2 linked regions of the Homo sapiens genome follow. The protein of the gene in region 1 purifies or fractionates together with the protein of each later gene. This does not show direct contact. Each region holds a gene or a part of one and is shown in the gene's direction. Other genes may lie near its edges.

What was found.
Region 2: the proteins of GPR119 (region 1) and CMIP purify together in Homo sapiens (affinity purification with mass spectrometry; one large-scale study listed by BioGRID and IntAct). This does not show direct contact.

The regions. Positions count from the first base shown.
Region 1 is NC_000023.11:130,383,307-130,387,220, reverse strand, and holds the start of GPR119 (glucose-dependent insulinotropic receptor), read left to right. Parts: upstream 1-1,546; 5' UTR 1,547-1,773; coding exon 1,774-2,781; 3' UTR 2,782-2,785; intron 2,786-3,914. UniProt on the Homo sapiens protein: Receptor for the endogenous fatty-acid ethanolamide oleoylethanolamide (OEA) and lysophosphatidylcholine (LPC). Functions as a glucose-dependent insulinotropic receptor. The activity of this receptor is mediated by G proteins which activate adenylate cyclase.
Region 2 is NC_000016.10:81,671,603-81,675,416, forward strand, and holds part of CMIP (C-Maf-inducing protein), read left to right. Parts: intron 1-363; coding exon 364-468; intron 469-3,814. UniProt on the Homo sapiens protein: Plays a role in T-cell signaling pathway. Isoform 2 may play a role in T-helper 2 (Th2) signaling pathway and seems to represent the first proximal signaling protein that links T-cell receptor-mediated signal to the activation of c-Maf Th2 specific factor.

The DNA.
Region 1 (3,914 bases):
AACTCCTTCTCAAAAAAAAAAAAAAATAAAAATAAAAATAAAAAAGAAAAGAAAGAAAGAAATGCAGATTCTCAGACTCACCAATGACCTGAAACTCTGGGAGTAGGACCCAAGAACCTGGGTTTTAAGACACCCTCCAGGTGATTCTGATACACTCTCAAGTTTGAACATGGGTTTGAAAAGGGCTAACTTGACTCCGTGGAGTCAAGAGCTGGGGAAACCCAAGCACACCTTAGGTCCAGGTATAAAATTAGGCTAGGTTCTAAGCAACTGGAATCAATCTCCTAATGGACATACCAAAGAATAAGAACTGTTTTCAGGATGGCAACTAGAATACTGAATCCCCACAACACAGTCTTTCTGATCCTTTTTTAGGAGAGACATCTGCCAAAGGCCCTCTCAGACTGTCAAAACATCCTGGAATATATTTGCGTCCAACTCTGCACCTTGCTCTCTATTCCCTCACTTCAAACACTAACCTTTCCCATTTGTGCTCTCACCTGAACTGAGTAAATAAGCTTCTAACCACTCTTCTCCCCACCCCTCTCTTCTTGGTATCCAAGATGAGAGTGGCAGGCGAAAGGGTAGTTCTAATGTACCCAAGCAAATGGATACACATCCTAAAACAGGAGTGACTTATGCAGCTGCCCCTCCAGAGTGCATCTCACCTGCTTCAGCAACACAGTTGCCCTTTGGTCTAACCTCCCCCCCTCAACCGCCCCCACGTTCCTATTCCTGGAAAATGGAAAATTCCATAGCCAAACATCAAGCAGACACTTCCCAGAATGCAGCTCATCTCCTCTTCTCCTCCCGCAGAGATACCTCAGGTCTATAGGATTAAGAAAGGCAAGCCCAGCAGCCACTACTCACTGACCAGACCTGGCCCAACATGCTGCAGAAATAATTATCAATTAGTATACTTGAGAGACAGCAGCGTGAGGTGGAGAATGGGTTCTAAACTGAATGACAGCTGTTAACAGTTTTTGGCCCTGTTTTTCCTGTCCTGAATCCTCAACTGAGATCCTAGGGATGAGAAACGGGGGAACAGCACGCCCTACTTGAGAGAATTAGAATTTGAGGCGCTAGGAAGCAAAAGGTAAGAAACAGCTTAAATGTGTGGTAGCACTCCTGAAAATATGCTGGGGCCCCTCAAAAAGCTCACCTTCCCTCACTTCCCACTTCAACTGATTATGAGCATCTTGCTTGATTAAAAGCAATTCATAATAGTAATTGAGAATTAGTAAGAAAAAGCTTAATTAAGCTGAGATTAATTATTTAAGCTGGTACTCGAGGTTTTGGAAGAAAAGTAGAAATTTAATGTCAAGGTATGGAGGAAGAAAAAAGTATGATTGGAGTCAATTATATCTTTTGACAGACAGGAGACCTGATGAATGTCCCTGTCCCTCCAGAGTCCCTGAAGCACCAGTGAAGGGAGAGGGCCTGGCGAGACAGCATGTACAGGTACTTGGGAGTTGTCTAGTAACTTGCTGGTTGGAGGGGGAGGGACTAGCTCAGGGCCCAGGGGGAGGTCTATACTGAAGTTGCTGCCTTTAGAGAGCTGGAGAGGCAGGAGGCTGAGGACTGAAAAGAGAGGGTGAGTAATTCTTCATGACCTGTAGGATCCCAAAGATGGCGACCTGCCAGCCTGGACTGCCAGCGAAGGCCAGAATCGTGCTGTAGCTCTGAACCCACAGCTCCTCTGCCCCTGGCCCATGAGAATTTCAGCTGGAGAGATAGCATGCCCTGGTAAGTGAAGTCCTGCCACTTCGAGACATGGAATCATCTTTCTCATTTGGAGTGATCCTTGCTGTCCTGGCCTCCCTCATCATTGCTACTAACACACTAGTGGCTGTGGCTGTGCTGCTGTTGATCCACAAGAATGATGGTGTCAGTCTCTGCTTCACCTTGAATCTGGCTGTGGCTGACACCTTGATTGGTGTGGCCATCTCTGGCCTACTCACAGACCAGCTCTCCAGCCCTTCTCGGCCCACACAGAAGACCCTGTGCAGCCTGCGGATGGCATTTGTCACTTCCTCCGCAGCTGCCTCTGTCCTCACGGTCATGCTGATCACCTTTGACAGGTACCTTGCCATCAAGCAGCCCTTCCGCTACTTGAAGATCATGAGTGGGTTCGTGGCCGGGGCCTGCATTGCCGGGCTGTGGTTAGTGTCTTACCTCATTGGCTTCCTCCCACTCGGAATCCCCATGTTCCAGCAGACTGCCTACAAAGGGCAGTGCAGCTTCTTTGCTGTATTTCACCCTCACTTCGTGCTGACCCTCTCCTGCGTTGGCTTCTTCCCAGCCATGCTCCTCTTTGTCTTCTTCTACTGCGACATGCTCAAGATTGCCTCCATGCACAGCCAGCAGATTCGAAAGATGGAACATGCAGGAGCCATGGCTGGAGGTTATCGATCCCCACGGACTCCCAGCGACTTCAAAGCTCTCCGTACTGTGTCTGTTCTCATTGGGAGCTTTGCTCTATCCTGGACCCCCTTCCTTATCACTGGCATTGTGCAGGTGGCCTGCCAGGAGTGTCACCTCTACCTAGTGCTGGAACGGTACCTGTGGCTGCTCGGCGTGGGCAACTCCCTGCTCAACCCACTCATCTATGCCTATTGGCAGAAGGAGGTGCGACTGCAGCTCTACCACATGGCCCTAGGAGTGAAGAAGGTGCTCACCTCATTCCTCCTCTTTCTCTCGGCCAGGAATTGTGGCCCAGAGAGGCCCAGGGAAAGTTCCTGTCACATCGTCACTATCTCCAGCTCAGAGTTTGATGGCTAAGACGGTAAGGGCAGAGAAGTTTCAAAGTGCCTTTCTCCTCCCCACTCTGGAGCCCCAACTAGATCAGCAGGAGCTAGGGGGATGAGAGCACTTGCTTCAGGCAATTGACCCCTGTCCCAGCATCCCCCACCCCCAGACTGACAGGTAACTGAGGCAGAGTCCTGACTTTCTTCTATAATCAGTTTCCCCATTTTCAAATCGCCACTCCTCCCTGTCCTTCTTTTGAAATGAGCCTGTCTCTGGTGTACAGGTACACTTACTTAAAGCAAGAAATGTACTGCTAAAAAGATGCTTATAGATCAAATTCTATTTTTGAGTATACCAGAGCAGCACTGTCCAACAGAAATATAATGTGAGCCACACGCATAATTTTACATGTTCCAGTAACCGTTTTATAAAGGTAAAAAGAAACAGGCAAAACTAATATTTTATTTATCCCAACGTAACCAATATATTGTTTTCAACATGTCATCAATATAAAAATTATACTGGTTTTTTTTTCATACTAAGTCCTTGAGATCTGGTGTGTATTTTGCCCTTACAAAACATCTCAATTTAAACTAGCCATATTTCAAATGCTCAGTAGCCACATGTGGCTAGTGGCTCCCATACTGAACAACACTAGAGAAATGAGGTTCTGTTATTTTTAAGTGTTTACTATAGTGACTTACTACAGTAATTGCTTTGGCAAGGTGAGGAGTCCCTCCTCCTCCTGCCCTTACTGATATTAATCAGAGATCTTATATGGTGAATGTGCCTAAAAGGTAGAAACCTCAATTCCTCTAAAGCTTGTCTTTTCGCACACCTCATGATGTTTAAAATAGGTTATTTCCCAAAGAAACACTATCTTGTGATTATTTCTGCTGTTACCGGTCCCAATCCACCACCTTTTAACTCTCTGCTGCCCCTTCCCTTAAGATGGCCTCATATGTCACTTGTGGCTACTTGCTGATGACAATGCTGGATCACAAATTCTGAGGCACTGGGAGGGAAGAGAGAGAAAACATGTGGGTACCAAGGCAGGCACAGCCAAGCTCTCCAGACTGGAGCCACTTTGCTCCTCAGGGCTCCTTCCACTTACTCCCAATTTTGCATTTTCCTAAGAAACTGTTGCACAGGAGACCAGCTGAGGA
Region 2 (3,814 bases), on another chromosome or scaffold:
AATTAGAAAATTTGGTCCTAACTGTACCCCAACTGAGGAGGGGGCTGCTATCCTCATTTTATCGCTGCAGAAACAGGGTGGAGAGTTTAGGAGGTTTCCAAGGCCACTCAGGGGTTTGAACCCGGGAACCCTGGATCCGGAGTCCACAGCCAGGAGCTTTGCCTTCTGCTGCCTGCACGTGGCACAGCCGGGGCCCAAATCCTGGTGCCACCAATTGCACAGTGAAGGCTCTCAGAGCCCCCCAAGTGGCGCTGGCAGAGCGGGCAGCCCCGTGCCTGAGCAACGCCCTCCCTTTCCCCCCTTACCCTGTCCATGGGCCCCACTCCTGCAGGCTTCTCACCCCAGCCCTCTGCTTTTTTCCAGCATGCACGGCCCCACAGGGCACTGCCCCCACCCCCGGGTCCTGCCCAACCTGGTGGCCGTGTGCCTGGCTGCCATCTACTCCTGCTATGAAGAGTTCATCAACAGGTCAGTTGCTGAACCACCGCCACCCAGAGGGCTTGGGAGGGGCAAACTGCCACCCCCATCATGGGCAAAGTCACCAAGAACTGACCAGGCCAGAGAGGTGGAGTGGCTGTTTACTGGGCAGACCTCATGGTGTGTTTGCCAGTTCCCCTGGGCACATTGATTCATGGGCCCAGAAGCCAGGGATGCTGCTGAAAAAGCAAGCACTGAATCAGCACCGCAACTGCAAGGCTGTTAGAGCTGCTTGGCTTTAGGGACAGATGTTTTATGCTGAAGATTTCTCACCACTGGAGAGGTATGACACACTGGTGTGTGTGTGTGAATGTGTGCACATGGGTATGCAAATGCATGTGTGCACTGTACACATACATGTGACTGTGTGTACGTGTGTGCACATGGAGGTGTGAATATGTGCCCGTGTGTTGGGGACAAGGGTTGACAGTAAGGTTTATCCTGTCTAGTCTTGGCTTTGAGAACACAGGCTTTTGCCCATGATTTGCATGGTTTTATTTTATTTTTTTGAGACAGGGTCTCACCCTGTCACTTAGGTTGTGCGGCAATACAGTGGTGCAGTCATAGCTCACTGCAGCCTCAAACTCCTGGGCTCAAGCCGTCCTCCCACCTCAGCCTCCCGAGTAGCTAGGACCACAGGCACATGCCACCACTCATGGCTAATATTTAAAATTTTTTTGTAAAGACAGGATCTTGCTGTGTTACCCAGGCTAGTCTCAAACTCCTGGGCTTAAGCAGTCTTCCCATTTGGACCTCCCAGAATGCTGAGGTTACAGGCATGAGCCATTGCATCTGTTTTTCTTGAGCGCCTGCTGTGTGCTTGACACAATTTCAGTGCTGGAGAGCGAGCAAGATCACAAATTCCCTGCTCTCTTGGGGCTTCCATTCTACCAGGAAGAGATCATGTACAAGTAAATGTGCAAGATCATGTCAGAGGGTAAGAAAAACCGTGAGAGCAATAAAACCGAGTGGTGGGGTAGCAAGTGACCGGAAGAGGTGGCAGGGCAGGGCCACGACCTGGCTTTGGAGCCTCCAAAAGGAAACTCCAAGACCAGGATTTGGGTGGAAGTGGCTTCCTAGGAAGGTGGTCCCAGGAAACACTGGGGGACAGGGAAGGGAGGACATCAGTGAAGTATGAATTAATAAGCAGGTGAGGCTGGGCGCAGTAGCTCACACCTGTAATCCCAGCAGTTTGGAAGGCCAAGGCGGGCAGATCACTTGAGGTTAGGAGTTGGAGACCAGCCTGGCCAACATAGTGAAACCCCGTCTCTACTAAAAAAATATAAAAATTAGCCGGGCATGGTGGTACATGACTGTACTCAGCTACTCAGGAGGCTGAGGCGGGAGAATAGCTTGAACCTGGGAGGCAGAGGTTGCAGTGAGCCAAGATCACACCACTGCACTCCAGCCTGTGCAACAGAGTGAGACTCCTTCTCAAAAATAAATAAATAAATAAATAAGAAAGCAAGCAAGCAGGTGACCACTTCAGGCAGCTGGCATGCACTCCCACTGTGCCCCAGGAGGCCGTGCGTAACACACTGAGAGTTGCTCTGCTGAGAGTTGCTCCGCCGAGGCTGGCGGTGCTGGGATAGTCACTCACCAGCTCCCATCCCTCGCTGGCTGAGAACTGCTCCCGGGATGCAGACTAATGCAGATGCCATTAGTTTATGGGGAACTTTCTGCAGTGACCTCTGGTGTCATTGGAGAGGATGTGACATGCAGAACACAGTGGTCTCTGCTGCAGCCACCCAGTTGTTCAGGTGGTACACTACACAACTCCAAGGAGACCAACATGAGTCCAGACCCCACCAGAGCTGGGGATACAGCAGGAGGGTATTTCAGTCTTTTCTCAAAATGAAGGCAGTAGAGCATTCTGAGTCGCTGAAAACCTGTACAGGGGGGATTTCTCAAACAAATGCCGTACTGCTGAGTTCTTCGGAGGGGCAGGAAAAGGCATTTGATAAATCAGGGGCTGTTTTCTTGCAGCAGGGCATGAGAGAGGGTGACTCTTTTAATGCCCTCAGCCTCAGGTCCCGATGTTCAAAGGGGATCATGTCCCACCTTGAATCACTTCCCTGATCAGAAGGAAGTGCAGGGACTCCAGGGGCCAGAATGTGGAGATGGGAGGCTGCTCATTCCCAAGGGCATGTTCTGGAGCTGACAGCACGGTGAGGCAAAAAGAGGAGAAAACGGAAGCCAGAGGGTAGTATCAGGCCTGCCCTTTTGTATTTTTAGTAGAAATGGGGTTTCACCATGTTAGCCAGGATGGTCTTGATCTCCTGACCTCGTGATCCACCCACCTTGGCCTCCCAAAGTGCTGGGATTACAGGCGTGAGCCACCGCGCCTGGCTTACAGTATTTAAGTTATACCCAGAGTGTGCAGGAGCCAGCTCACACGTTACATTTGGGAACACATCCCTTCCCAGTTCTGTAATGATATCATATTGATAGCTTGAAGTAGCTGTGGTGAGTATTTACACCAAAGAAATTGGTAAACACTGCAGATCAGGGCTTCTTTTTTTTTTGAGACAGCTTAGCTGTTGTCGCCCAGGCTGGAGTGCAGTGGCACAATCTTGGCTCACTACAGCCTCCACCTCCTGGGTTCAAGCGATTCTCCTGCCTCAGCTTCCTGAGTAGCTGAGATTATAGGTGTGGGCCACCACACCTGGCTAATCTTTGTATTTTTAGTAGAGATGGGGTTTTACTTTGTTGGCCAGGCTGGTCTCGAACTCCTGACCTCAGGTGATCTGCCCGCCTCGGCTTCCCAAAGTACTGGGATTACAGGCGTGAGCCACCACATCCAGCCAGATCAGGGCTTCTTTCTTTGGAGAGTTGGTTGTTAGACATTTACCAGCGTACTTTGGGTTATATGTCAATTTAAAAAAAGAAAGAAAGAAAGAAAGAAAGAAAAGGGTGCCCAGGACCCTCCCAGTGCCATTCTGATTTAATTAGGATGGCCCTGGCATCTGTTTTTGGAAGGAGCGTTGGGGAGGTGATATTTACGTTAATACCTCCTGGCTGTTCTCCAGGCAAGAAGCAGGAAGAGGGTGACCCAGGGAGAGAACCACATGGAAAGGCCTGGCAGTGATGGGTGAAGGTGCCATTCGTCACAGTGTTTTTGTTTTTGGTTTTTGGGTTTTTTTGGAAACAGTCTCACTCTGTCACCCAAGCTGGAGTGCGGTGGCGCAATCTCTGCTCACTGCAACCTCTGCCTCCTGTCTTCAAGCAATTCTCATGCCTCAGCCACCCAAGTAGCTGGGATTACAGGTGTGCACTGCCACACCTGGCTAATTTTTTTTTTTTTTTTTTTTGTATTTTTAGTAGAGATGGGGTTTCG